Linked DNA regions of Homo sapiens: regions 1, 2 and 4 are each reported to be linked to region 3. Evidence: microRNA targets listed by miRTarBase, many of them from high-throughput screens and not tested one by one. Region 3 holds a microRNA gene; each other region holds the end of a gene's coding sequence.

What was found. Region 3 holds the annotated microRNA hsa-miR-615-3p (UCCGAGCCUGGGUCUCCCUCUU, at 4,907-4,928, opposite strand). A microRNA usually pairs through its seed, bases 2 to 8, with sites in the 3' UTR of a target mRNA and lowers its output. Matches are read on the target gene's strand: a 7mer-m8 pairs with bases 2 to 8, a 7mer-A1 pairs with bases 2 to 7 and ends in A, and an 8mer does both.
Region 1: miRTarBase lists RAPGEF2 as a target of hsa-miR-615-3p. The part of its 3' UTR that is shown has no 7-base or 8-base seed match.
Region 2: miRTarBase lists DCAF12 as a target of hsa-miR-615-3p. The part of its 3' UTR that is shown has no 7-base or 8-base seed match.
Region 4: miRTarBase lists NUDT16 as a target of hsa-miR-615-3p. The part of its 3' UTR that is shown has no 7-base or 8-base seed match.

Annotation. Positions count from the first base shown.
Region 1 is chr4:159,356,840-159,363,957 of GRCh38, reverse strand. It overlaps RAPGEF2 (Rap guanine nucleotide exchange factor 2), which reads right to left. Exons shown (of 30, transcript NM_001394067.2): 30 at 3,785-5,844. The coding sequence ends at 5,819. Among named protein-coding and RNA genes, the nearest start is that of MIR3688-1, 230 kb to the right of the region's middle.
Region 2 is chr9:34,082,133-34,089,250 of GRCh38, forward strand. DCAF12 (DDB1 and CUL4 associated factor 12) reads right to left here. Exons shown (of 9, transcript NM_015397.4): 9 at 4,255-6,376. The coding sequence ends at 6,218. Among named protein-coding and RNA genes, the nearest start is that of UBAP2, 37 kb to the left of the region's middle.
Region 3 is chr12:54,031,820-54,038,937 of GRCh38, reverse strand. MIR615 (microRNA 615) reads right to left here and starts at 4,988; the gene lies at 4,893-4,988. It overlaps HOXC5 (homeobox C5), which reads right to left and starts at 5,888. Exons shown (of 2, transcript NM_018953.4): 1 at 5,362-5,888; 2 at 3,577-4,660. The coding sequence starts at 5,815. The coding sequence ends at 4,446. It also overlaps a transcript of HOXC4 not described here. RefSeq lists a silencer at 4,790-4,849 and enhancers at 4,933-6,084, 6,079-6,373.
Region 4 is chr3:131,382,081-131,389,198 of GRCh38, reverse strand. It overlaps NUDT16 (nudix hydrolase 16), which reads right to left. Exons shown (of 3, transcript NM_152395.3): 2 at 6,884-7,118; 3 at 369-6,037. The coding sequence ends at 5,858. Among named protein-coding and RNA genes, the nearest start is that of NUDT16, 3.9 kb to the right of the region's middle. RefSeq lists enhancers at 6,417-6,985, 6,986-7,118.

The sequences.
Region 1 (7,118 bases), not on the chromosome of region 3:
ATGCCCCTTCACACATGCATTTTGTCTGATTTTTGAGTCTCCAATTTACCTGTGTAATTGAGGTCCTTTAGGTTGCTTGATATGATATTCATTTATTAAACACTTTGGCATTATCCCAGGCACTGTTTCTAGATGCTGAGAACAGAATGGTTATTCAGAGAGGATACACAAAAAACAGCTCTCCATGCTGGTCTCATGAAGAACAAGAACATTTCAGAGCCAAGCTTCAGGGAGTTGTTCTAAGACTGGACATTGTATTCAGGTGTGATGATGACAGATCATTTTATTGTTCCCTAAGAAGTGTCTTAAGTTTTTAACAGGATTCCTGCCTTTGATGAATTGCTTTCTTGACCTCATGGGCCCCTTCTTGCTCATGATTTCTGCATCCTCATTGCTTCTGTTAGTCACGGCTTCTGAATACTCACTTCTTTGGTGCGTCCTTTTTTTTTGCCTTTTCATAGAAATTCCCCAAAGAGAATGTGCTAAGGTTGTTAGTTGTTGCTTTCCTTCTTACTGGCTGGTCACGGCACTCATTCCAGGGCCCTCTTACAGACTGCTGGTGAGCCCACATTGGCAACTCTTGGATCAGACACCTCCTTCAATCCAGCTGTGATCAAGATGGTGGGATCACTCCGTAGGTTTTTCCATGTAGGGCCTGAGACACTTCTCTAAAGTAAGAAAGTATAACTCGAAGGTGCCTCGGTTCACTTTAGTAAAATCTGTAAATATCTAGCATCTAGAAAAGTGCTTGGACCACAGTAAATTAGCTCACTAAACTGTATCTAGAAGCATTGTACATATACATATTTTCATCTTAATACCAAATGTGACACTCACCTGATCCTAAAACCAATTTTGTAGTCCTATTTGGGGAAAAAGGTTTCAATCTATATAAATTAAAGAAAACCTCACGTATGTTGAGATACTATTACTTCATTGGTCCCCATTTGACCACAGTGCATTTGGCAAGGTCATACAATATTATTAAAATGTTTCTTTTCTGAGACAGAGTCTTGTCCTGTTGCCCAGGCTGGAGTGCAGTGGCATCATCATAGATCACTGCAGCCTTGAACTCCTGGGCTTAAGTGATCCTCCTACTTTAGCCTCCTGAGAAGCTAGGACTACAGGTGCACACCCTTACAACTGGCTGTATTTTTTATTTTTTGTAGAGATAGGGTCTTGCTTTGTTGCCTGGGCTGGTTCTTGAATTCCTGGCACCAAGCAATCCCTCTTGCCTCAGCCTCCCATAATGCTGAGATTACAGGTATGACCCACTGTTCCTGGCCAAAAGTTTCTTAAATTGTATTAAACTTACTTCTATTTTTGAGGTGTTGAACACTCTGAATTAAGTTGATTTCACTTTCAGTCTTTATAAAGCTGGTCATTTGACTCAATTTATTTCAGATATTTTATTCTAGGCTTAGACATTTTTCCCATAAGAATTGTTACCATCTTGATTGCCCATGAAATAAAGTCTTTTCTGGCATTTCTTAACCTTGCATGGAATGTCGTGATTGCCTCTATAAAATTTTCTGGTATATGGCTATGGCATAGTAACAACTAGCTTGCCTTGTACTTGGCTAAAATGTGAATCTTTTAAAAAATGCAACTCAGGCCGGGCACAGTGGCTCACGCTTGTAATCTCAGCACTTTGGGAGGCCAAGGCGGGTGGATCACTTGAGGTCAGGAGTTTAAGACCAGCCTGGCCAACATGGTGAAACCCCGTCTCTACTAAAAACACAAAAATTAGCCGGGTGTGGTGGTGCACGTCTGTAGTCCCAGCTACTTAGGAGGCTGAGGCAGGAGAATCGCTTGAACCCAGGAGGTGGAGCTGAGATTGCGCCACTGCACTCCAGCCTGGATAACAGAGTGAGACTCTGTCTCAAAAAAAAAGGCAATTCATAAATTATTTTTCAGTTCCAGTCAGTATTTTCGTCTCACTCTCAAATAGGTAAATTCTCACTTTAAAATCTTTCTTGAAAGTGTCATGTTGGCCTCAGCTGCAGTTTGCCTTACACATTTCCGTCTTATTGCCCCTTTCAACAACCTCTGCTGATATTATACCCTTAGTGAATCTTCACAAAATAATTTACCTCTGCAATCAACAACTTGACTCCTCAGTTGCTGCATTACGTTTATTCTCTAGGTAAGCCTTTTTTTTTTTTTTTTTTAAAGAATGCTGGTATCATGGGATAAAGCGCTCAAGAGAGTTTCCTATTTTTCTTTGGCATGAATGTAGTGCACTGGCGTTGAGAGGCAGAGACCAAAAGGTGTGTTGATACATGCATCCTCAGAAGCTTGCATTATTCATTTTGGGATATTATCAGTGAACTAAAGGTAAAACATATTAAATCATAGATGAGCATAAAATCTATACCTCCCAAAAGCAGAGAAATGGATTGAGGCTGAGAAAAACATTCTGAGGACTTCAACCTGTATGTATGAAAACACAGACCCCGGTCTGTGTGGCCTCTTTGATTAGGGTGGAGAGCATCAGACCTTCACCAAAACCTTCTACAATATCCCTAAAACTTGGCAAAGTTCTATTATTAACATAACATAAACTCTGTCCCTGCAAACTGTTACACTTGGCAAATACTTATTTCTGGAAACCCTTAAGTGGAGACCAGTCTTGTGCTACACGGAGGAAGTATCCTAAAACATAAAAGTCTAATAAAACCTAAAAGGAAAACGAACCATGCCCTATTTGTCACTGTCTCATATTTTTAGCAGAACACACACAGTAATGATAAAGAGGTTATTCTCCAAAACATCAGATTCTTAGTATTTTTTCAAAAAAAGTTTGAGAAAATTAAGCTGAGTGACAGTCTAGGAAAGTCCCTGAGGAATGGGTTTTAAAGTGAAAAGACAACAGAGATGAGCATGTAACAACATACACAAACACGCAGGTTCTTCATTTTTTAAAAGGTGTGGTTGAAGCTACTAGAATGGTTAAAAAATAAATAAATAAATAAATAAATAAATAATTTTCCCGACTATTTTGGTGTCCAGGTTTTCAAAATTTCTCAGCAAAATAGCTGGCACGAATACCTTGGAAAGATCTTGAAGCCTAGCCCTGGCCATTTTCCTGTTAGCTTCTGGAGGGACCTTCCTCCCGCTCCTCTTCAGGCTCCCTCACATGTTCCAGTGTTTGGTGCCTCTGCTTCCAGTTGCTTCCACTCTGACTTCTGAGACTTCTCAGTGGCTGATGGCTAATACTTTTAGTTATGCTTGCTTGAGGAAAAGAAATGAGTCACTCATTTAAACATGTGCGTAAGCAGGCTGCTACTTACTGGTTTTTACCTTTTAAAATTAAGTGCCCTTCTGATAGACTAAAGTATTATTCAGACTTACCACACATCAGCACTCATATTGTGTACTAGTTAGAAGTCCAGAATCACTAGCTAAATTGTACTCTCCACTTAATAATCATGACCTTGAATGTCAGTTTCTCTGAGGTCCTGTCTCTCAGTATGTATACTGGGAACCAAAATATTACGTACCATAAAGATTATTGTTGGAAACGGTTGAGAAGAGACAAATGTTATGCAAATATATTGTGACAGCATCTTCATTTTCAAGAAACACTGAATTCTGAACATGGTTTGGCTGGTGCTAACGTTAATGATATTAATTGCTTTGGATCAACAGAGATCTGCCTAAAATAAATAGGCTATTGGGCAGTTTCCAATAACCATGAGGCTAAATCTCTCCAGCCGAAGGACTTGCTTCTGCAGGAGACGAAAGGCTTCTATTCCAATTTAATAATAAAAAGCATGCATGATTCATTAAGAATATAGGCAAGGCTTTATGTTATATTTATTTATTTTCCAGCTTGTACAAACTGGATGTAGAAGCATAAACATAGTACATTTCTACCATCTTCAACAAAAATATAACCAATATGTACAATTATTGTATTAAAAATACAAAAGGGATACAGACTCCACCAATGTCTTTCTAAAAGACATACAGGTACAAGTAGTATCAAAAGTATGAGGAAATCACCAGTTAATTGTACATTCTGCACTTGACATCACAGAGCGAACTGAGATTAGCAGTCCTATGTTCTACAATTACTTAATGCTTAGATAACATTTGTGCAACTTGTGGTAGAGCTAGATTTCTGTCTTTCTATATGCACATGAGGTCCATAGCCTATATAATAAAACTGGCAAATAATGCATATTACATGTAAAATTACAAATGCATAATTGACAATGTAATAAGCAAGTAGACAAATGCCATGATACAGAAGAGAATTATTAAATAAAGCACTGACATTGTTTGATACAGTGAAAAAACACTGCAATTCCACTTTTAAAATTTGAAGCTATTTACGTTTATCTACTGATCAATATGATCAGCTGAATTTAATGGAAAAAAAATCCAAGACCAGCAGTTCCTCACATTTGAGTACTACTCAGATTGGCAGCCTTCACTTTTCCGGAGTCTGTGCAAAACAACACAAAAATAGAGTGGAGGGGTCATTTCAGTCATTATAGGGTTAATAGCAGCTGTGAGCAGATGGTTGCTACACTTAGGCCTTCTCTATATGCAGCGTCCATAAAGCCACTTGGAGGTTAGTCTTTGGTGACTAACCTGCCTTGCAAAGGCTGGCATGTCTAACCAGGTTTTTGATCTTTTATCACGTTTAAAGGCTTGTTTATTCCCTAATGCCAATTCAATAAAGGGAGGCTGTCTTGAAAGAGCAGTATAAACAGCTGGCATTAGCTCCAACATCCCAAGCTGCTTTCACTGCAATGCTATCCAGTTATAAATGTTTCTCTTAAAAAAAAACAAAAAAACAAAAAACAAAACCTACACCTCTAAATTAACAAAAATCAAAGAAATATAACTTAAAAATGGGGTTTGCCATCCATCTCAATGGAGCAGGACACATCCGCCAATGACACCGTCCTGCCTCCATAAGGCTCAGACAGGACACAAGGGTCCTAGTTCCCTCCCCTGGCCATGTGCAAACAGTTTTACAGAAGAACCCCATCCACTGGGGAAGGAGCAGATGAGGTGTCTTGGTATTAATTGGCTAACATTTCATACTTCCAGGATAGGGCACTTCGCGGGTGAGACCAGAAGGACATGGGAAGCCAGGGTCACAAGCCAGGTCTTCCCGTCTTCTTGGTGTGGCCACACCCTGTCCGGCATATTTGGTTTTTCAGAAACCAGGCTGGCAACCCTACTTAAGGTTTAAAATAATACTGTAATCATTAAATGGATATATATTTACTCTCTGAACAAAATCTTTAAACTCATTTTTTTTTTTTAAAAGGAGGACATTGTAAACAAGTGGACAAGCACTGTACTCAAAGGATTTCATTGTTTTTCTTTGTCTTCCTTGGTGGGTTAAAGGCCCCAAGTAGTTCAATGGCTAGCTTTTCTCATTATCCCAATGAGATCAAGTGCTAGGACTGGATTGAAATCTAAAAGGAAGATTAAAAAAAATCCTTCCAGGCATTGAGAAGTGCAGCCAGAGTGAATCATCTTGTTGTGATGATCTTGGAATTTGGAATGATACTGTGTGATGTGGCAGGCAGCAACAGTGGGAGCTCGAAGATTGCTGCACTGTGCATTTCAAGCAACAAAGTCTGAAAAGTGCCAGGGCAATTTCTTCACAGTATTTCACATGCAAAGGGGAAAGGAAGAAGGGGAGAAGAAGCCCCATGCTGCTTTTAAGGCAGGGAAGGAGGCAAACTGGTCCACCGTCCTCAGAATGTGAGTTCCAAGGCTCCAATGCTCAGGACGTCTTCTTGTGCTCTCCTTTCAGGTGGCTCGCTCTGCTTCCAGAAAAGTCTGTGCCTCAAACAGCAGAAACTTGTTCATCTTCTGCAAATACAGCAGGGAAGAAAAAGAAATCAATGAGCAAGCAAGTAATTTCTTGTGCTATAGAGAATATATTCACTGATGTGCTAAATAAAACTATCATAGTTATTCTTTTTAGTATAGCTCACTTAGAATCCTTGTCTTTTTTTCCTAAACAATGACGAACAACAAAAAGGTTAAAATGTATGCAATACATATCTTTACATATATACACACAATATTAAAAAGATATGCATTATATATTTTTGTTCAGAAAGTTGTTAAATTCATTTTAAAAAGTTGTAAAATAGCATGTGCCATTTAAAAAAAATATACGATCAGATACACATAAAAAGTCTAGAATATATAACAACATTTTAATAGTGGCTATCTGCAAGTGACAGGATTTTAAGTAATTTTCATTTGTAATGTTTTTCTATTTATTTAATTTAATTTAACTTTTTTGAGACAGGGTGTGGGTTTGCCATCCACAGTGCAGTGTTCTCGGCTCACTGCAACCTCCGCCTCCCGGGCTCAAGCGATTCTCCTGCCTCGGCCTCCCAATCTCCCAGTCACGTGTTGCTTTTTTCTATGATTGTGTAATCAAACATGTTAAACTGAAAACTTTAAAGAAGATGGGAGGCCATGTTCTCCTTCCTCATTCTCAATTCAGCATGGTCAGATAGATTTGTAGAAAGAACGCACAAAGAGTTATAAAGAATGTGGGTTCCTTCCTTCCTTCCCTTTCTCCCTCCCCTTCTCTCTCTCTTTCTTTTAGAGACCGGGTCTTGCTCTGCTACCTAGGCTACGGTGCAGTGGCACAATCATGGGTCACCACAGCCCTGAACTCCTGGGCTCAAGTGATCCTTCCACTTCAGCCTCCATAGTAGCTAGGACTATTGGCACACGCCACCACGCCTGGGTCATTTGAAAAATATTTTTATGGAGACAGGTCTCACTATGTTGCCCAGGCTTGTCTCGAACTCCTGGCCTCAAGCAATCCTCCCACCTCAGCCTCCCAAAGTGCTGGGATTACAGGCATGAGCCATCAGGCTGGCTGATAATGTATCTTTCTTTATCAGACTTTCATTTCCAAATGAGTCCCAATTCATTAAAAGCGCAAATATAATGTTTCCACAGAAAACTTTAACCATCCACCTTTGAGAATCCTACATGCTTCTAAAATTCTTGACAACAGCACAAACTTGTGAAATTTTCATTTTCTTTTCCTTTTTTTGAGACAGAGTCTCACTCTGTCACCCAGGCTGGAGTGCAGTGACATGTTGTTGGCTCACTGC
Region 2 (7,118 bases), not on the chromosome of region 3:
TCCTCAGAATACTTCTAAATTACCACAAACTTGGTGGGTTGTTTTTTGTTGTTTTTTTTGAGACGGAGCCTTGCTCTGTCGCCTAGGCTGGAGTGCAGTGGCACGATCTCAGCTCACTGCAACCTCCATCTCTCAGGTTCAAGCAATTCTCCTGCCTCAGCCTCCCGAGTAGTTGGGACTATAGGTGCATGCCACTACGCCCGGCCAATTTTTTGTATTTTTAGTAGAGACGGGGTTTCACCATATTGGTCAGGCTGGTCTCGAACTCCTGAGCTCAGGCGATCCACCCGCCTCAGCCTCCCAGAGTGCTGGGATTAGAGGCATGAGCCACTGTGCCCAGCCTAACTTGGTGGGTTTTAAAACAACAGAGTCATTCTCTCATAGTTTTGGAGTCCAGAACTCTGAAAACAAGACGCCAATCTCATGCAATGCTCTTTCTCGAGGCCCAAGGGGAGAATTTTTTTTTTGAGACGGAGTCTCACTCTGTTGCCCAGGCTGGAGTGCAATGGTGTGGTCTCGGCTTTCTGCAACCTCTGCCTCCTGGGTTCAAGCGATTCTCTTGCCTCAGCTTCCTGAGTAGCTGAGATTATAGGAGCACACCACCACGCCCGGCTAATTTTTGTATTTTTTGGTAGAGGTGGGGTTTCGCCATGTTGGCCAGGCTGGTCTCAAACTCCTGACCTCAGATGATCTGCCCACCTCGGCCTCCCAAAGTGCTGGGATTACAGGTGTGAGCAGCCACGCCTAGCCTATTATTATTTTTTGAGACAGGGTCTTGCTCTGTCACCCAGGTTGGAGTGCAGTGGCGCAATCATAGTTCACAGCAGCCTCAAACTCCTGGGCTCAAACAGTCTTCCTGTGCACCATCATGCCTGGCTAAGTTTTCAATTTTGTGTAGAGACCAGGTCTTGCTATATTGCCCAGGCTGATCTTGAGCTCCTAGTATCATGCAATCTTTCTGCCTTGGCCTCCCAAAGTGCTGGGATTACAGGCATGAGCCACTGCGCCTGGCCAGTTTCTTTCTTTTTTTTTTTTTTTTTGAGACAGGGTCCTGCTCTGTTGCCCAGGCTGGAGTGCAGTGGCACAATCCTGGCGCGCTGCAGCCTTAAACTCCTGGGCTCACGTGATCTTCCTGTCTCTGCCTCCCAAGTACCTGGGACTATAGGTGGGCATCACCATGCAAGGCTAATTAATTATGTGTAGAAATGGGGTCTCACTATGTTGGCCAGATTGGTCTCAAATTCCTGGCTTCAGGCAATCCACCCCAGCCTCCCAAAGTGTTGGGATTACAGGTGTAAGCCACTGCACCCAGCTCAGTTTATTTTAAGGTATGAGTTGATCATCTGTTTTCTTCCTGTCCATAGCGCTAGCAATGTTAATTATAGCTCTGAATACACCTTACAGCTTAACAAGAAGCATAGTAAACATGTGACTATGAGCACTTTTTTTTTTCGAGACGGAGTCTCTCTCTGTTGCCAGGCTGAAGTGCAGTGGCGTGATCTCGACTCACTGCAACCTCTAACTCCTGGGTTCAAGCGATTCTCCTGCCTCAGCCTCCAGAGTAGCTGGGATTACAGGCACGAGCCACCACACCCAGCTAATTTTTTGTATTTTTAGTAGAGACAGGGTTTCACCATGTTGGCCAGGATGGTCTCGATCTTCTGACCTCGTGATCTGCCTGCCTCGGCTTCCTAAAGTGCCAGGATTATAGGTGTGAGCCACTGCACACGGCCTGAGTACTGTTAAATAGTATTATTATGCCTTAAAAATCCTGACTTCGGCAGTTCCACACTAATCAAGAAGAGTGTTCAGATGTGAGGCCCAACCCAGGGGGATTCTGATAGAGGATAGTCCACACCTCTCTTGGAGAGTGGAATCATAAAAGAGCTCACAACTCCATCTCCATCTTGAGTTCAGTTCACACCTTTCTCTCCAGTGGTAGTATTCCTATGTCTCACATTTCTTTCATTGGATTCTTCTTTGGAGGAGCTAAGGGCAGAACCAAGCTAAGAAACCTGAGCAATTTATTGTCTTCATCACTGGTTTCAGAATTAGCAGCCTATGTTTCCATCCTCCCAAACATTTCAGTTATCTCAGCACACTAGCGTGAAGAAAGATATGAATGAACTAGCATGAAGCAAATAACACTGAGTGATTCCTTCTCCTGTCCACCCCCCACTCCTCATTGTTGTCTTCTAGATACCAGCAACTGAAAAGCAGAACAAAAACACTTGGATCGTAGGCTAACTCCTAAAAGATTGATCCCTGGTGCTGATACAGGTATGGACATCCTGACTTGCTATTTCTGGGTATCTGCACGAGGAATGGCAGCTGGATCAGAGTGGCCTGGACTGCGGGCAGTCTTTAGTTTTATTAGGAACACAGGGCCAGATCAATAATCAATTAGAGTTGGCAGGGGACCAGGGACTTGGAGCATAAACAAGTCATGAAGGGCTAAGAATTCAGTTCAGCTACAAAGCCTCCTGTAGAAGGACCCAAAGGATGAGGAGCCAGCAGACTATTTGGAATAAGGCATGTGGCATGCGGCCTGAGACAGAACAAGAAGTGCCTGAGAGAGAACAAGAAGTTCTTTCACAGAAGGGAGTAGGGACTGCTGGCTAAAAAGGGACCCCATAAAGCCCACAAAGCCCTTCTGTGATACATGCTTTGCTGGAAAGTCTGGCTGGAAAGTGGGAGCAAGGCCAAGATTCCATGGAGGCCAGAGGCCTAGACCAAGTCAACCCCACATTCCCTAAGTCACCTTTCTTTGTGAGCATGTTCTATGGAACAAGTCCCATAGTAAAATACCAAAAACCTAAGAGTTCAGTTGCACATGTGTACCTTTTTCCTTTTATAAATATTCATGACTCCTCCTATAGCTTATTAAATACATATATTCAGCCACCTTGTTCAACATAAATTCCTGTCCCCTTTGCCCCTCCCTCAGTTTGTGTTTCTGACTTCTGGCCAGAGGCTGTACTTCCCAGACTGTCAGAATGGCCACCCTGCAGACTGCAACCCTTTGAGAAATAAAGCTCTCCTTTCCAATTTTTAAAAATAAAAAAACCTGATGGTAAAGGAATGAAGCTGCTTTTGTTCTAATCTGCATTTCCCAAAAATGATTTGACAATATATTTTGTTTGGAGATGGAGTCTCACTCTGTTGCCCAGGCTGGAGTGTAGTGGCACAATCTCGGCTCACTGCAACCTCTGCCTCCCAGGTACAAGCAATTCTCCTGCCTCAGCCTCCCAATAGCTGGGATTACAGGCACCCGCCAACACGCCCAGCTAATTTTTGTATTTTTGGTAGAGATGGGGTTTCACCATGTTGGCTGGGCTGGTCTCAAACTCCTGACCTCAGGTGATCCACCCACCTGGGCCTCCCAAAGTGCTGGGATTACAGGTGTGAGCCACTGCACCCGGCTGACAATGAAGATTTTACAAATACCTTCTAAATTCATTTTGGGAAAGGCTAGTTTCAGCCCTTTCCAAATGTAACTCGTCTCCTCTGGGGAGCCCTCTCAAATTGCTTTAACTTACTCATCTCCCCTTCCTGTCTTGCAGCCTTTGATCATATAGGAACCCATGTGTCATGTTCTGAACCAGTCAGTCTCTAAGGCAGGTGCATAGAGCAGCTGTGTCCAGCTTGCCCTGGAAAGAACAAGTACCATGTGGCAGAAGAATAGGGACGGCCTTGCCAGGCTCTGCGGCCTAGCCCTGGTGGGTTTCCCAGAGATGACTGTGTGAGGAAGGGTGGTATGATTTGGCAGTTTCTCTCAGCTACAGCTCCAAATAGGCTCTAGAAGAGCATCACTCACTGTGGTCACTGTGTCTTCCCCTTACAAAGGGCAGTGAAGGTCTATGGTTCCAACTACAAAAAACAAAAATTAATATCCTATTCCCAGAGTACTATGCAAGCACTTTCAGCGTCATTCTCAGGGCACCATCCAAGCAGACAGGGCCTATTACCAACCCTTACTTATGTAACAGAAGTAACGTCACACTACTTCAGTACCCTGGGCATATCCACCCTCAGCTGGACCTCAGAGCAACTCATCTTGGGCTAGAGTTGGGGACCCAGAGCAAGCAGGTCTTAGTATTTGTGCCTGCACTTGACCTGCCTCTAACCTGGAGGTAATGGCTTGTGTTCCCCTTCTGCCACAAGCAATCCCAACAGCTCAAGCCAACCTTCCAACTAGTCATGTGGGGCCTTTTTGGCAGGCTCCTGGCTACACAATACTCACTCACACCATTGTGCACTGGAATAATTTTTATTTTTTTCCTTGGCAAAAAGTCAAGTGCTACATTTTTAAAAACAGAAAATCTCAAACAATCAAACGCATTACCCATTACAGAAGAGGGTCTAGCAATAGTACAAAACATCCTACTGAAGATTTTTTTTTTAAATATACAAGTCAGTTTAAAATGATAGAAGTTCTGTGAGAACTAAGAAATCTACAGCCTGTAGTTTAATAATAGAAAAAAAATTAAGACAATTAAAAGATCTATAGCATCCAGCATTTTGCTTAATTCCCTGTTTATAGCACCTATTTCTCTAGGTTCGAAGATGAGAATTCCAGAACCTGTGGTATGTGCTGTGTAACAAGTTAGGGTGGACTTGCTGTCTCTCCTCTCCAGTAGCCCCCCACCATTAAAAGGAGAATATATATATAATTTTTTTTCCAATTTCCCTTCTTACACCCAGAGAAGAGGGGGACAACTGGGAGAACAAGTTAAAAAACTGGGGTGCAGGAATAAATATGACTTTTCCTTTCCCCAAAATGGGATGTTGACAGAAAAGCAGAGTATGTGCTTAGAGGAACTGGTGGGTGGGAACAGCTGTTATCTTTGACATGATGTGTAAAAATCAGGGAACAAGTGGACATCACAGTCAGCTGCCTGCAAGTTTAAAAACCTCAGACTAAACAGACAGTTCAAGGGAGGAACAGACAAATTACTAATCACATTGATGCTGTCACATGCACAATGATGCTGACTGCAGGCCAGCCTGTCACCATCTCAGGGCTAAGCCAACAGAGTAGGAGGGGTGGCTTCAACCCCAAGTCCCACTGCAGTAAGAAAATGAATATTCCACACATGAAGCACTCACTACACACAGATAAACCCCCTGCTCACCCCCACCTTCTTAGACTTAACCCAATTTAGAAAATAATAGCAAAACCCACTGGGGAGATTGGAAGAATGGCAGAGAGGATTCTCCTCAAAGCCATGGGGGCTATGGATGTGAATCTTAGCAGACTTGAGACTCCCAGCTCCAGGCCCCTTAAAACCAGATCAGGTCTTGAGGGGAAGGAGAGAGAAGCTAGGATGGGGATTCAAGTCCCATGAAGCCTTTTGTAGCCTCTGGAGCTGCACCTGGATGGTGAGTCTGATGTTTTAGGGGTGTGGCTACTGGCTAAGCAGATGTGAGGGTGGGAAGGGGAAGTGACACCAACTTCCCACACGGGGGACACACAGGTGGGAAGACAGGTAGGGCTGGATCACTTTGCAGTCCTGGCATGGGAGGCCCCAGGAAGCCTACAATCTAACTAAAAAGATTTTCCCAGTGGTAATTTCTTTTCCTTTCTGTTTTTACTTCCTATTATCAGTGTTGTTAGACTTAAAAAACAAGATACAGACTAGTCCCAAAGCTGGACTCTGTGAATAAAGTTGTTTCTTTTATAAATATTTTAATTACAAGTAATCCTCACTCCAGGTAATTTCAGTGACACACAGTACCTACAGGCACACAAGATCACACACACACACGCAGACAAGATCTCTCTCTCACACACACACAGACACACACAGCTCCCAAACTTTCACAGAAAGTCTGAGAGCAACCATGTAATTATAAAGGAGCCCTACCTCTCAAGAGTGAAGTAAGGGTGAGCTATGTCATTTCAGCCTGAAGAAGCCAGAGACAGGAGAATGTGTGTCACTTAAAGAAAAATAGGGATTAGCAACAATGTTTGGTTGAAAAGCCAGAAATAATAAAAGATAGTAAAATTTTGATTACCAAAGGGGAAAACAAAAAGCAAAACAACTTTCAGATTTCTGTACAGAGCTTCTTCCTATTAAGTGCCTAAACTATAGGCAAACTTTGGTGTTCCCACTAAAACACAAGAGCCTCACACAATTAGGAAAAAAAAAATCAAAAGAAACAAGGAAACTGAGAATGGAAGTTAGTGTAAATCTCTGCATTTGGGGAGTTGTCATTAACTCCAGAGCCCAGCATAGTTTCCATGGAGCCCTGAAGGGAGGGGACCTCCTGCCACAAAGAGTTTCGTTCCAGACGAGTCGTAGCAGTGGGTGTAAACAGCATTGGGGAAGAAGTCAATGTCTGAAAAGTAATTCCTCCAGGTTTCATCATGATTCTACGGGAAGAGAAAGAGACTACAATTAGCACCTCTAGCCATGGGGCAGGAAAAGGGGGAGGAAGGGACAGGAATGCTTTCTGGTCTCCTTAAGGGAACAGGGTTCTACAGGTACAACCTCATGTCAGGAGATTGGCTGGTTGGTTCTCATGGGAATCAGGGCCTCATTTTTCCAACTAAACGTTAGAGAAGAACGGAGCAGCTGAAGAATTGCTATACAAGGCTCAGTTCTTCTCAGGAGACTTAGAACCAAAGTTCTGTTTTCCCTCCACCTGCTAGGCACAGGAGGAAGAACCAAACACTTGAATAATTCACTGGAGGTGGGGCGCAGTGGTTCATGGCTGTAATCCCAGAATTTTAGGAGGCCAAGGTGAGAGAATCACTTGAGCCCAGGAGTTTGAGACCAGCCTGGGCAACATGGCGAGACCCCATCTCTACTAAAAAAAAATAAATTAGCCGGGCACAGTGCATATGCCTGTGGTCCCAGCTACTTGGGAGGCTGAGGCAGGAGGACTGCTTGAGCCCAGGAGTTCAAGGCTACATACAGTAAGCTATGATCACACCACTACACTCCAGCCTGGGCAACAGAGTGACCCTGTCTCAAAAAAAAAAAAAAAAAAAAAATTCACTGACAGCTGTGGTGGGAGGTCCCTTATCCTTCTTGCTCTATTACACCTTGGGGAAAATCCTAAGTCAACCAGTGTGTTTTACTGGGCCTCAGTTTTCCCACAGGCAACGTGCA
Region 3 (7,118 bases):
GGCGCCCTAGCCTGAGGATTGACCCCAGGGTGCAGTGCTCATATTGGGCCCTGCTAGCTCCATCCCCGAGGGGCTACTCTGTCCTTAAGGTTGGGGGACTTACTTTCCCAGCCTAGCAAAGACATTGCCTCTGCTCCCTCACCCATTCAACACACAATTACACTCCACTCACAGCAGGAACCTCTAGGGCTCTTAGAGCCTAGTTTTATCTCAGGCAAGGGCTGGGAATGCCAGGAAGACCCAAGCAGCTAGAAGGAGAGGAGGAAGCATGAAACCACACTGGCTTCAGACGGACTAAGATGCCAAACTACGGAGGCTGAGACAGCTGCCCATCCAAGCCTGGTAGTGAGGGAGGGAGGGGGCACTCTGGGACCTCTGGGTTCAAACAGCCACCTTTGAGATACTTTTGCCAGTTCAGGCAGCAGTAGCCTGTGGGCGTAGAAGCCACAAAACCCTCCTTCCCTGCCTTTCTCCCCAGTTTCCCACCTTGGGCCACTGGCCAAGGGCTGAACTCACCCCTCCCTGGAACAGTGGGCCCCAGAGGCATTTTGAGCTTGTGTCTAGAGTTTACATACCCGTACAGACACCAAACACCCTTGTTGCTGCCGCTTGCTTTCTTCTCAACTGAAAGGGTCAGGAAGACCTGGCAAATCTCTAAACAACCAAGGCCTCTCTACCCCAGTTGACTTGCAGTCAGAGAGAATAAGGAGTGGGAAGGGGAGGGCTGCTCAGGGTAGACAAGCTCCCCCATCTTCCTACTTCCCAGCAGCTTTTTCTGCTGCTTCTTCTCTTCTCCCACCCCAGCCTGGGAAGGCCTTTTCCCCCTCCCCCTAATAAGTGGGAGCTGCCTTCTATCAAGTGAGGGGGGTGGTTAGGTAAATGGGAGAAAGGGTCTGAGAGAGAGAAAGAGAGAATTAACTCACAGCGTTCGCCTGGGATTCATTTGCGAAGATGTAACCTCTCTCACCATCGTCCCCAGCGCCGTAATCCCCTCTAACTGCCAGGCCCTCTGTCCTAGCATTAAACCTCACCAGCAGCTGCGTGGCTGGACAGTTAAGATTATATATGATGTAAATATATTGTGGGTTTGTCAGCTCTCCCTACACCATAAAACTTGGTTTAATGATATCACGTGGTCCCCCAAGAGCCACTCACGGGCTTGCCTTCAGGCTATTCACATAAATAACCTCCAAAAGTTTCAAACTCCTAAATTCACATAGAAGCATGCCTATTTCTCTAATGCTCAGTTACACTAAAAAGCCCTGGTGCTGTTCCTTTGCCCCACCCCCACATCCCCCTTGCAGGGTGGAGAGGGGGGAGAGGGTGGATCCTTATTTATTTATTTACTTACTTATTTCCATAAGGACCTGTCGCCTTCGAGGTCGTGTTGATCTTTTTGTCCTCTTATTTTTTCCTCCTCTTTCCTCTAATTGCTCAGAGTGGGCCGTGTCCCCCCTCTTCCCACTCCCCCGGGAAGGTAAGTCATGCTTCTTCCCCTTCTTTCTTGCTGCCAGAGGGGGTGGGTTCCAGGGCAAAGTGGAGAGGCAGGCTCCATAGTCTCTGCTTGCAACCCAGAAGACCCCTCCATAAACTCCCCCAGAGCAATGCCAGACCCTGTTACCTGGAAATATGTTCTAGGAGGCTGGCTGGTGGGGAAACTACCCCAGGCCCCAAAGCAGAAGCCCCTGTTCAGGGAGAAATCAGGGATCTGGGCCTTATGCACCCTCAGCGTAGGGAAGTAGGTACGAGGCCTCTGGCTTGGTTGCCGCCGCTGACTCCCGACGATGCTGCAGAAGCCAAGGCTGGTGCCTGGGCAGACCTGCAGATTGTGACAGGAAGGAGGAGGGCAGGCAGGCACTCTGTGTCTACCCAAGCCAAAATGAGTCAGACCTTCAGCTCCTCCAGGGAAGGAGAGGCCCAAACCCTGCCGGGAGGAGGCAGTCAGTGCACGGTGGGGCTGGTGTGCCCTGCCTGGCAGCTCTAACCAACATTGCCCCTATCTATGACAAAGCCCTTGGTTTTCCCCTGGGGTGGTGCGCCTGTCCCCTGGGGAGGAAGCACAGGGCCTGGGCAGCCTGGGAGGCTGGAACAGGTGGGTGCGGGTGCCACAGCCTCTTTCTTAGTTAACTGTTACCCACCGGAGACGCCAGTGCTTCTCCACGCTTCACTGCTCACTCAATAGTTTTACTCAGCATGGAGAAAAAATTAAAATAACTCCCTGAAGAAAATTACACATTTTATTTCAGAGAGAGAGAGAGAGAGCACTGGTCTGGGTTAACTGCTGTGTGCAAGTTGAGGAGAGACAACAGGCGCCCTAACCTGGCCTGAGTGCAGTGCGAAGGGGAAGGGTGGTAGTTGTGGGCACTGTTCAATAAGCATTTGTTGAGACTGCCTATGTGCCAAGCATGGGGTGAGGAAAGGCTCTTGGGTCTTTTAAAAAATGACTGATGGGTAGCTTAGGCAGTGGGATGCAGCGAAGTTAGTCCTTATAATAAATCCAAGGAGCATCAGCATTAATAATCATAAATATTCCCCTGCCCCTCCCCAGAGCCCCTCTGCTCCCCTTTCTTCTTGGCTGCTGGTGCAATCCCTTAGCCAAGCTCCAGACCCTCACCCCACCAGTGTGGGGGGCCTAGGCTTGGCTCCAGGAAATCACCCTGTTGTGGGAGGTGGGAGAGGAAATGCAGTAAAGTTTTATGGACCCTTCCCACATTTGTTTCTACTGTAAAGTGCTTCCTCCCCCAGCCCATCCCAGGAGCCTGGAGAAGGACCTGATCCTCAGACACTACCTGAATTATCTGCCTCCTCCCACCCCCACTTTTAACCCATCCTCCCCTCCACACAAAATCCCAGAGACTGAGATAAATGATGGCAGACAGACGTGACTCCAGCACTGGTCTATGCAGCTCCTTTCCCAGTTAATTGTCCTGCATAGCCCGAGGCCCTAGAAGGTGGTGGAAACAGTCTGAACATTTCCTGCCAGGCTGATACACACTGCAGATTGTCCTCCCTGCTCCCTCTTCCCCAGTATCTTAGATACTGAGGCACACCTCCTCCAACTCTCCCAACACCCCCTTACCAAGCAATACCACCTCCCTCTAGAGGCCCTTATGAGACCAAATGGGTCCCTAGAGTGAGGGCTCAGCCCTCCCTCTATGTCCAGCAAGGCCTCTCAGGGACCACCTAGGCCCAGGAAAGATCTTCAGAGGCCCAGAAGGTCCTAAGGCTGAGCACGGTGGAGCCACTGGTTCCTGCACCGCAGCTTTGGCACACAGTGGGGGCTGCTGCCAGTCCAGAGGCCTCCTGGAGTGCAGAGGCGTGAAGGCCTTGGACAGCCACAGCATGGGAAAAGCCAGTACTCGAGGCCTAGGTGCCCTTCTCTTCCCCCAGAGGCTCTTGTTGCAGCCAAGGAACAGGAAAGGAGCTCAATTTCACCTCCCTCTACTCACTGCCCCTAGAAGCTAGAAAATTTTTTAAAGGGGTGGCTTAAAGTTTGTGGGTCTCCTTCTACATCTCACAGCCCATTTAGACAATTTTACCCAATACATGCCCCAAACAGACAGGAGCCACTGCATCTTTAGTCCTGTTCTCTCTTTATTTGATATGACAAAATATAGTTTCAGGAAGGACCCAGAGTCAATAAATAGTTGGACAACAGCAATGGGTCAGGAGGGCACAGAAATTCGTGGCAGGGACTATGGGACAGCAAAGGGCCTCTAGGACCACTTGCTGGGGTCCAGTGCCAGGAAACCCCACTAGTTGAGCTAGCTAGCAGGCTGGGGCTGCCGGCCTGAGAGGGCATGCAGCAGGCGCAGGCTGGGGAGGTTCCCGGGTTTTGGGGGGAAGAGGTTGTGGAGATAAGGTTTGGAAAGCATAGAGCAACTGTGGGGGCCCTAGGCCGATGCTCTCCTTTCATATGCAAATCATTCATAAGTGAAAATCTAGTTTAGTCGCTACAAGGAAGCACCCCGAGTCTAGGGCCAGACTCTCGCCAGCCTTTGGCTGTCTAACCCGTCCAGCCGGGAACAAAGGAGAGGGCGAGGTTAGAGGGTCCGGCGAGGGTCCTGTGGCGCGGGCCGGGCCCACCTTAACTCGGGAGGGCCGCGCTGAGGCTGGGAGCCGGAGATACGGCCCAGGCCAAGGTTCGTTCTGCGCCAGCCTGTACGCCGCAGCCCTCCGGGGAAGTCCTGCGGAGCTTGCCCTGGGCCCCGGGTACCGAGCTGAGCCGAGCTGAGGGGAGATGGGGCAGCGCCGACAGCCCCGCGGGAACCCTGGGTCGGTAGGGATGCGGAATGCCAAGGAAAAGCGCTTTTGTCTGTGGGGCCCGGGAGCCCAGTGCTCCAGCACCTGCCCCCGACCCGAAATATAGAGAGGAAAGGCGAAAAGGAAAGGCGCAGGGACAGGAACCGGCTAGGGGCGCGCTCTGCGGGCCTCCCCCGCTGCCTCTAAAGAGCCTCTTTGCTTTTCATTTTGGAATCTTTCTTCCACTTCATCCTGCGGTTCTGGAACCAGATCTTGATCTGTCTCTCATTGAGACACAAGTTGTTGGCGATCTCTATGCGCCTGCGGCGAGTGAGGTAGCGGTTAAAGTGGAATTCTTTCTCGAGTTCCAGAGTCTGGTAGCGCGTGTAACTGGTTCGGGACCGCTTGCCGTCCGTCTCTGGAACATAAACCCCACCCCAAGCCAGGAAGGGGTGAATAGCTTGCAGCGTTCCCCCGTCCCCACCCCAGCCCAGGCCCCCACCCGCGGCCGGAGGGAGAGGAGGCGAGAGCCGCAAGACAGGCCACGCGGGCCGCAGGCGGGCCAGCCCAGCCCAGCCCCGGGAGAGGCGCCTCCGCCCAGGCAGGAAACTTTCCACCGCAGCCTTCACTCTGCAGCCGGAGGGGCTGAGGGGGGGTTGGGGGGAAGAGGGAGACCCAGGCTCGGACCGAACAATAAGCACCCTCGAGATCCGAGCACCGGGGACCCCCCTCCCGCCCCTCCCGAGTCGCTGGAATCCTCCGGAGCCGCAAGCGCCGGCGGAGCCGGCTCCGCAGGGGAGGGAGGGAGGGAGCCGCGGGGGGATCCCCGCTCTGGAGCCCCGCGCTCCTCACCCTTCAGATCCCTCTATTTTTTTAACTCCCTCCCTCTCCCCCAAAAATTGAATATTGCCTTTTATACACGTTTTGTTCCTATGATCCAATTATGTCGTCGTAAATTTGGGCGCACACAGCCTCTAAGCCTTTTAGTGGACAGTTTTACGAGCCATTGATGCCTGGATCGTAAAATTTATGGCCGCAGGTTTTTTTTCTTTATTTGCCCCGCATGGCCTATAAAACCCAGGCGGACCCGAGAGCGCAAAATGAAGTCCTAAAGTTTACCGTGGCTCATGTGCAGTTTGGTCATCCACGGGTAAATCTGTGGCGGGGCCGGTGGCTGGCTCAGTCCGGCGGGCTGCCCTGTCTGCGCCTGCTCCTCTTTGATCTCCCCACTGCTCTTAGCTCGCTCCTCCAGCGCCGGGCGAGCCGCCTTCTGACTGTACATCCCGGGGTTCAGAGGAGCCGCTTCGTCTCTGCCCGGAGCGTGTCCCGGAGCGGCCGCGGCGCTGCAGGCGGGGCGGTCGGGGTGAGCCCGGGGGTTGGCAGCCATGTCTACCCCGTGGAGAGAGTTGGAAGGCGCAGGCGGTGGGAAAGTGATGCTTAAGTCCAATCCGCCGTAGCAGTACCTGGATGCCTGCACCTCTGAGGCCGATCCATAGTTCCCACAAGTTTGCATGTTATAGGCAGGGATATTGGGGCTCTGCTTATAGAATGAATTGGCTACGTAGGAGCTCATGGCGGGGAGGGCCCAAAAAAATTTCTGCACCCTTTTTGATTAAGGGTGATTTGTGACTCTTTGAAGTTGAGGGGTTTTTTGTTCTCCAAAGTGGACAATTTATAGGTGGAGATATCTCTTTCTTTATCCTATGCGCTCTTCCCAAATAAGGGAGCCTTAAATAGAGTCACGTGACTCGAGCGGCCACTCATAAATTTGGCTTGATGACCTCCGGGAGGTTAGTGATGGAAGCCGGCGAAAAGCATCTCGATATGTTGGCAAAGCCCAACCAAGGGGGAGAGGGAGTGAGAGAGAGAAAGAGGGAAGGGGGAGGGAAAAAAAAAAAAAGGTTCTTGGAATTGGGGGTAGCCGGGACAACAAGCCCACAGCGACACCTGGTGCCTATGTGGGGGAATTGCATCCTGGAGCGCCAGCTTGCTTTCCGGTGGCTGGATTTCCTACACTGTGAAGGAGAAGCTGGTTGTTGGGGCAACCCCTGAGCTAGCCTTTTAAATTCTATTTAAAATTGGGAAAAGACGAGGCCCCACTTATAACGCACAGAGTGCTTTTTGTAATGAAAGTCCCGTTCTCCCAACCTCCAGGGTCTTCCAATCTTCAAAAATGGCTGAGGAAAGGGGATTAAGTTAGGTAAGGTGGCCTATGCCCAGGCTGGAGAACCAATGGGGTTTAACTTAGGTTCCCTAAACCAAAGGTAGAAGTCCCTTGCCTCTCAGGCCCTAAGGCTCCACTACTGCTGAAGAGGTGCCTATCAGCAAGAGAAAGTAGAATTAGCTTCTGAAGAGGTAGACAGGACGCCCAGGAGGAGGGATCCTGAGTGGTCAGAACAAGATAGGGGGGTCATGAAGCTGAGGGTGTTGCAGGCTGTTTGGGATGGATCTGGAGGTGAGGAGCCAGGTGGAGTTGGCTAGACCTCACCATGCTAGGGTCCCCAGAGTGGCAACAAGGCAATTTTCAAGTGTGTGTGTGGACACGGACAGAGCCAGACAATGGTCTAGAGGACTGCTCTGTTTCCCTGTGTGCGATCCTTATGTGGTACCTATGCCAGAGGTTTTAGACAGAAAATAGATGTTAATTGAGGACATGGAGAAGCAAGATTGAAGCCTCCACAAATATTACGTGAGCATGGCAGAGGAAAAGGCCCGTTATGTGCCCTTTGGGGAAAAGGTCTCTGGGCTAGGCTTTCCAGGGACCTGAATCCATAAGGTTCACAAGAGAGCAATTTCTGAGCTACCAAGAGGAATGGGGCGGACCTGGGGGGTGGGCAGGGCAGGCGCCTGGGTAGCCTTCGCAGGGTATCTGCAGC
Region 4 (7,118 bases), not on the chromosome of region 3:
GCACTCTCTTAATTAATACTATTTTCTTAATTTCTAATAGACTTTGCTGTATATAATCTGAAATTGTTGGTGATTATGTGATTATTGTGGATAATCTCTTGATCAATTAAAGAATTCTAGTGCCTTTGATATTAATATTATGATGATCTCTTACTTTTTTACTGTAATTCCCTGGCATTCTTTCTCATCTTTTCATATTCAGCCAGAATCATATTGTTTTGGTATGTACTTTGAAATAGTAAAATTTCACGAGTCTTACCGTTTTCAGAAATCAAATCCTGCTAATTTCCTCAGCAGAATCACATTTTTATGCTTCTTTCTCCCTCCTCACTACTCACTTTTACTAAAATAAGTGAGAACCTGGGAACTAGCATAAAATCAAATGATTTATTGTTATTTATAAAATATTTATTATGCTCAATATACATATTTCCTTTCAGATGTTAACATATTGTTTGATAGCCATCATTAACACAGTACTTAGCACTAAAATTGTACATAATAGGAGCCACTGCCTCACAGCCAGCCCACAAATTTCCTACAGTTTTCCTGTCGATCAGTTATTTCCTTTGATTCATTCTGTACATTCCTGAAAAACATCTGTATGGTTTTCCAGTAAAACTGCATGAGTAATATCCATGCTTTTGCACTTAAACGTCAATTTAGATAGACATGCAATTTGTGCTGTAGTAAGTGACCTAATTCTCCTACCTTACAAATTTCCTTCACACAAAAAACAGTCTGATGCTTTTTAGTTTTTATCTTTTTGTTCCCCTGAACATAGTGAGTACTGCCCACTTCTGGTGTAGTATCTTGAGTTTAGGGAAGTTTTTGTCCTGTTTCCTCTAAAATGTTGTTCCTGTTACATGTGTTCTGTTAGTATTTTCCTTCTATCACTTAACAAGACTCTGGATTCTCATTGTCTGATCTCTGTATCTATGATATTCTCTTTGGCCATTTTCCTTGTTTTGCACTTTTTCTCTGGGTTCTAGGGGATTTTCTTAAGCCTGGTCTCCATATCAGAGGTAGATTTTCCTGGGGCTGATGATGCTCTTGCTGTTCCTAGGGTAATGTTAAGTTCTCTAACAGAGAGATCCCTCTCCTTAAATTCTTTCTTGGTGTTGCCAGCTGTTCCTGCATGTCTTATCTTTTCTCTCACCTCATTTCAGAGTCCCTGCTCTCCTTAAATGCCCTGAGTAAATACCACTTCTACTCCTTGGAATGAATCTTCCAGAGCATGGTCTTTATCACGTGCATCTGGTGCTCACATCCTCTTCTATTTAACAGACCTATGTTACTTGCTGTTTACTTAAATCAATTAGGGGCAATTCTGCTCTTTTGGTTTCAAACAATTGGGGTCATTCACCTGTTCTCCCTTCCTTGTTTACCTGGCCTTTCCCTACATCCACAACCTAGGACTAGTGCTGGATAATAGGATGTTGTAAACCCATCAGTTCTGTCTTCTAGAGACCTGAAGAAGGTGGGAGGACTGGGACTGTAGGTGAGGGTCTTGGCTGAGTCCAGGAGCTTTCTATACTTGTTGAAAACCCCATCGAGGGGTTGTTATCCTGAGTGGAAAGAGGGAATCCTCTGCCCCCGCATCACCTGGGAATGCCTGTGGTGGGTACATACCCATGGTGAGGGCACAGGCAGCAGCTCCAATCTGCATCTGTGCATCAGGATGAGCAGCACTTTGGTGAAAATGCTAGACACACAAACTCCCTCCATCTGGGAGCTGTTGGTGAGGAGCTTCCTTTTCTTGTTTTATGTCCTTCCCAAAGTCCCTTTGCTATTCTTGCTTTTCGAGTGTAAGAAGGGTTCCTTTGCAAGATTTCATCTCTGCCCAGCTGGCCCCTGTAGACTACCTCTACCCCTAAAGGGAACATAGCCCCTGTAGAGTACCTCTACCCCTAAAGGGAGCCTCATTTGCCCAAGCCAGAAGGGAAGTGGGGAGAAGGCACATGGTTTCTCTTTGTGGGGGCCCTAAGTCCATGGGGGTTTCCCATTTTTCCTTTTTCCTCTGCCCTGCCCATACTCCTCTTCCTCAGAATTGAACATGTTGTAAATAAAATCCCCTACCTGGCTCTTCTATACTTCTCTGATAAGTGCCAAGGTCCAGCATCTTTTACTTTGGTTCAAATTCTGATGCCATCTAATGATTTGTTTACAGACTAAACTTTTTCCTCTAGTTTTGACTCTCTGACACCCGTTTGTGATTCTATTGGAGATAAAGGTTTCAAAAACATTTCTGTGCAACAAACTGAAACTCATATAGGAAACATGCCTTCCCTCTTCTCTTCCCCTCCCCTTGTCTGTTTCACTGGCCGGCTCCCAGCTCTAAGGGTTCCGGTAACTAGGAAAGGAGGAAGTCACTGTTGCCTCAAATGTTCCAGCCCACAGCAGCAGCTTTGCCATATGCCAAGTGACCACAGAGGACTTTGTCTCAGGACAGGGTGGGGCTCAAAGTGTTTTTATTCTGCACCAGCAGAAAAGTGCAATGCTGAGAAGTGGGAACATCTTGCTGATTATGCTGAGAAAGGCAGAAACACGTGTTTGTGGAGAGGCGGCTGGGCCACTCACCTTGCAAGAAACAAAATGTGCTGTGAAGCAGGAAAGTACATAGCATCCTGTACTTTCATACCGCTCAATGCATCTCTGCAAGCTTATCCCAAGTGCTGCCTCATCTGATCTCACCACAGGAATCACAGCAACATTTCAGATAAGGAAAAGGAGGTCAAGGGCTTGGGTCAAAGTCACCACAGCAGTTAGTGGGGGTCAAAGATTGCAATGAGCATTTCTCTTCTTCCTGCCCCAGATGATTGGACTTAACAAGGCCAAGGAAAGCTTAAGTGGGTCATCATCCCTGGCTTTCCTTAAACATCAGCAGGGTGGGAATGGCTAACAGGAGGAGAAACACAGAGTGTGAACTTGTATCACCCCCCACCTGCCTACCCAGAGACTGTCTATGTGAGTGAGATGAACACAAACCCCAGTACAGTGAAACACTTTTATGAAGGCTGCCTGAGAGGTAATCTACTGACTTGGAGAGTATGTTCAAGGGATCATATAGGAAAGTCATGGGCTCTTCCCCACGCAACCATCTCCAGAGACCTAAATAAAAAGCAAATTTAATACGAATAAGTGGACAGATGAGCTGCCCAGTAGGCAGGCACTGAGAGACTGATCAGTGGGATACTCAAGCAGAGTGAGACAGAGCGGAACCTTCCAAGTGGTATTAGTGTTGACCTGGATTACATCCCATAATGAGTTCTGGATCCAGAATTACCTGAGGGAAGGGGTCTGTTAGCAGTGCCATAAAGGGTCAGTGGCTCTGATCTCCCAGGCGTCAGGGTCCCTTGCAGAGATGACTGAGAACCAAGTGCACAAAGCACAGATGAAGCTGCTACAGGCTGGAACCCCAGGGGCCACTGGAATGTCCATTTCCTGCAGCCTGCCTATACTGAGGTTTAATCTAGATAACGTTTGACAAAAGGGTCAGGGTAAGATTAGGAGATGATAATTAACCTCTAGGAGTCTACCTCATTGTACAGCTGCTCCCCCACTGGGTACTCCCATTCTTCTAAGACCAAGGGCTGCCAGTGGGACCCACACTGCTCTGCATCAAGCTTCCAGACCACTGCCCACCCTCCCTTCCTCAAAAGGCTCTCACCTGGGAGATGCTATCCTGTCATGCCTGCTTTCCCCTCTGGCAGGTGCCACTGGCCTTGTGGCCACTCCTCTTGTTCACCAAGGATGCTGACTCCTAGGTCACACCATTCTCCTCAACATCTGTCGGTTTCTTGCTTCAGCACCCATGTGGAGGCTCACCCTGCCCTCCAGCCTCGCCAACCCTAGATTTCACTTCTTAAGGCTCCTCCCTGGCTCTGGCCAGCAACCCCAGGTCATACCCTCTATTTTGCCTTTACCTGAGATTGCTCCACCTCTCAATTTCCAAAGCACTCCTGTCTGGCTCAAATATACCTCCCTGCCCAACCCCTCACCATGCTGGAGTTTCTATCTTGTCAAGACCTCTAATTTCCTAATCCCTCCCTAGTCACCTCCTGTTTTCAATTCCAATTTCTTGGTCAGATTAAACCTTAGACTGCACATTTCATCACTACAATTTCTCCTGTGTATGTCTTCTGAACTGACCCATCTTTCTCTCAACTCCTTTTACTTCCCTGGCAAAACCCCAACACTGCAGTAAGTGTACCCATCCCAGCTCCTGAATCCTGATGAGGGGAAGACAGGTGTGTGCAGAGCCCCACTCAACACACACACACCTGAGTGCCCAGCATCCTACTCTAAACTGACCATCTCAGAGCTCAGCCTTGCCCTGCCCTTCTGCTGTTGCCTTAATCAACCTGTTTTCCAACACCTAGGAAAACATCTACTTCATACCTTCTGAGAACACACTCCACCCACAACTAGCTGATAGTCTCACTTCATTTCACAAAGAAGAGATTCAAACTCCTTCATCATTTCCCCATTAATTTAGTCATCCTAATCTTCTATACTTGCCCCTTTCTGTTTTATTGAGCCATATGAGGCTGCAGGACTGTGTCTCTTCCTACAAAGGTCCCATCCCTCCTTCTTTCTCATGGACTCTGCTCCTTCAGGGGTCCTCCTCTTTGTGCCCCTCCCATCTCTCTCATCACACCATCTTGACTGTTGCCATCAATATTGGCATGCTCTACCTCCCATCTTAAACATGCCTTGACTCCATAGCTCTCTATTATTAACCTGAGCCCCTTGAAGGCCAACTTCTCACACGTTCTACTCCCCAACTTTCCATTCACTCAACCAGTACAGCCTGCCTTCCATACCGCCCTTCCTGAAACTGCTGCCATCATAGTCATCAAACACTTCATGTTACTGAATTCAATGGACAGTTTTGCCTCTGTTTTAGTGAAACCCTCACAAGCACTCTGCATAGTCCGCTTTCTGTCTTCTTTAACGTGCCTGGTTCCCTCTGCCCAAACTTTTAGGATTGGGCCTCCTCAGGGCCTTGTCCTGAGCCCTCTTCTTTTTCTCTCTCCATGGATTACCTCCTCCAGTCTATGTTTTTATACCACCTTTATGTAGATGAAGTGAAGGCAGGGTGGTGCTAGACTGGGGTGGGTCAATTCCCTTCTGATAGTCTCGGAGTCTCAGGCATCCCAAAGATGAAAGCTCTAGAGGAGAGACACCAGTCCTCACAGGACTCATGTCCATGCTCAGTCCAAGGAGACCTAGCCACTTCCTTACCCTTCCTGCTCAGTTTCAGAAGAAAAGGATTGGGGATTGGTTGGGCTGCTCTCCCACCTTTTAAGAGCCAACTGCTTTGGTCACCACTCAAGACAAGAGCAAGTCTATTTTCAGAAAGCACAGGGGGTGCTCTGTTTCTCTATCCTCCCTAACAAATAGGCTGGGCTAGACCCTGGAGGGCAACCATGGAGGAGTGTGGGAAGGATTCACCCTTGCTTCAGAAGCTCCTTGCAATCAGGGACCAGGGTAGTGTGACAAATGCCACTTCAAGGTTAAACTGGACATGACCAGGGGAAGGTGTCAGGCTGTGTGTTGTTACAGATTGTATATTTGCATGCCTGGGGGTTACCAGGCTGTACGCATATAAACAGGGAGGAGGCAGGCTCTGAGAACCTGCCAGGGTGCCTGGGATAAGCTGTGACTTTTTGCCCCTGATGCCATAAGTTGGAGGGTCCTCTGCTCAAAACATATGGTACACACTTCTCCTTCTTTTCATCTGGTATCATGTATCATCTCTCAGATCCAATAAGAAAACATTCCCACGTCCTTCCCTCCCTCCCTAGTACCAAGGTCCTCATCTCAGTTTTCATGGGTCCATGGAGGGCTGCCTCTAGTGATGAGCTGGAATCTTAAGGCCTGAAATAGAGCCAGACTGCAGCAGTCCCAAGTCCTGGAGAGCTTCAAGTAACTGCTCCCGCGCAGAGCCAATAAAGGAATTCTCCAGGAAGGTAGGCAGGCCTCCTACACCATCCCGCAGGGTATACAGGGGCACTCGCACCAGGCCCAGCACCTGTAAAAGGAAGGAGACAGGAGACACTAGGGCCCCAGGTGGCTCATTCCCTTAACTCCATCCTTTCTCCAGCAGATCAGGCCTCACCCCTTAATACTCCAGCAGAACCAGGCCCAAGGCTCACACCTCACTAAAGCCTAGTGGCCCAACCTTCTGCAGGAAAATGACCCAAAACATATTATCTAGCTCTATCAATTAATCTTTCCCACATCTGCTTCTAAACCTCTAGTGGCTACTGCCTCAAAGATGTATTCATACCCTTTCACCAGTGGTTGTCAAAATGTGGTCCTCAGATTATTTGCATCAGCATTATTTGGGAACTTTTGAAAACTACAAATTCTCAGGTTTCCTCTCCCCCCGCCCCACCACCAATGCAGGAATGCTGAGAGAAATCGCTATTTTAATAAGACGCCCCGATGATTCTGCTACCTGCCAAATTTTGAGAACCACCTTCATACATAATCTATCTACTAGCCCTGCCTGAAATATCAGGGCCACATCTCCTACACAAGAAAAGCAAACCCCAAGAATAAAACCTAGGTTGCCACACCTAGATAATGTGATAATCTATCACACTGTCAATAGGGAACAGCAGAGAGACATGGATGAGTGTGTTCTAGAAAGGATCTCTCCTGGTAAAGGGTGGGAAAGACCTTTACAGAAAGCCCAGGTTGGCAGTACTAATTCAGAGTATAGATGATCACGATCCCAACTCCACCAAGAAAGCTGGGGAGAGGGCAAGGTCAGAGGGGCAAAGACTTTTCTCCAGGGATGCTTTCTTGGGGGAGAGAAAGCTTTGGGAGAAGAGGAAATTGGGAAAGGGACAGAGTCCCAGGCTGGTCCCACCTCCAGCCCGTGGTCCTTGGCGCGTGTTGCGCCGGCCTCCACAGCCAACAGCTCCTCGAGCGTCAGACGCTTGGCATAGAAGTGGGCCACAACGCGTGGCCCTGACCCGACGTGGGAGCTGCGGTAGTCAGTGCGCTCCACGCGGAAAGCGGCAGCCGCTTCGCCCAGCTCCTCGCGCAGCTCGCGGTTCAGCCCGTCCTCTAGGCTTCTGTCCTGCGTGTCCACGAATCCGCCG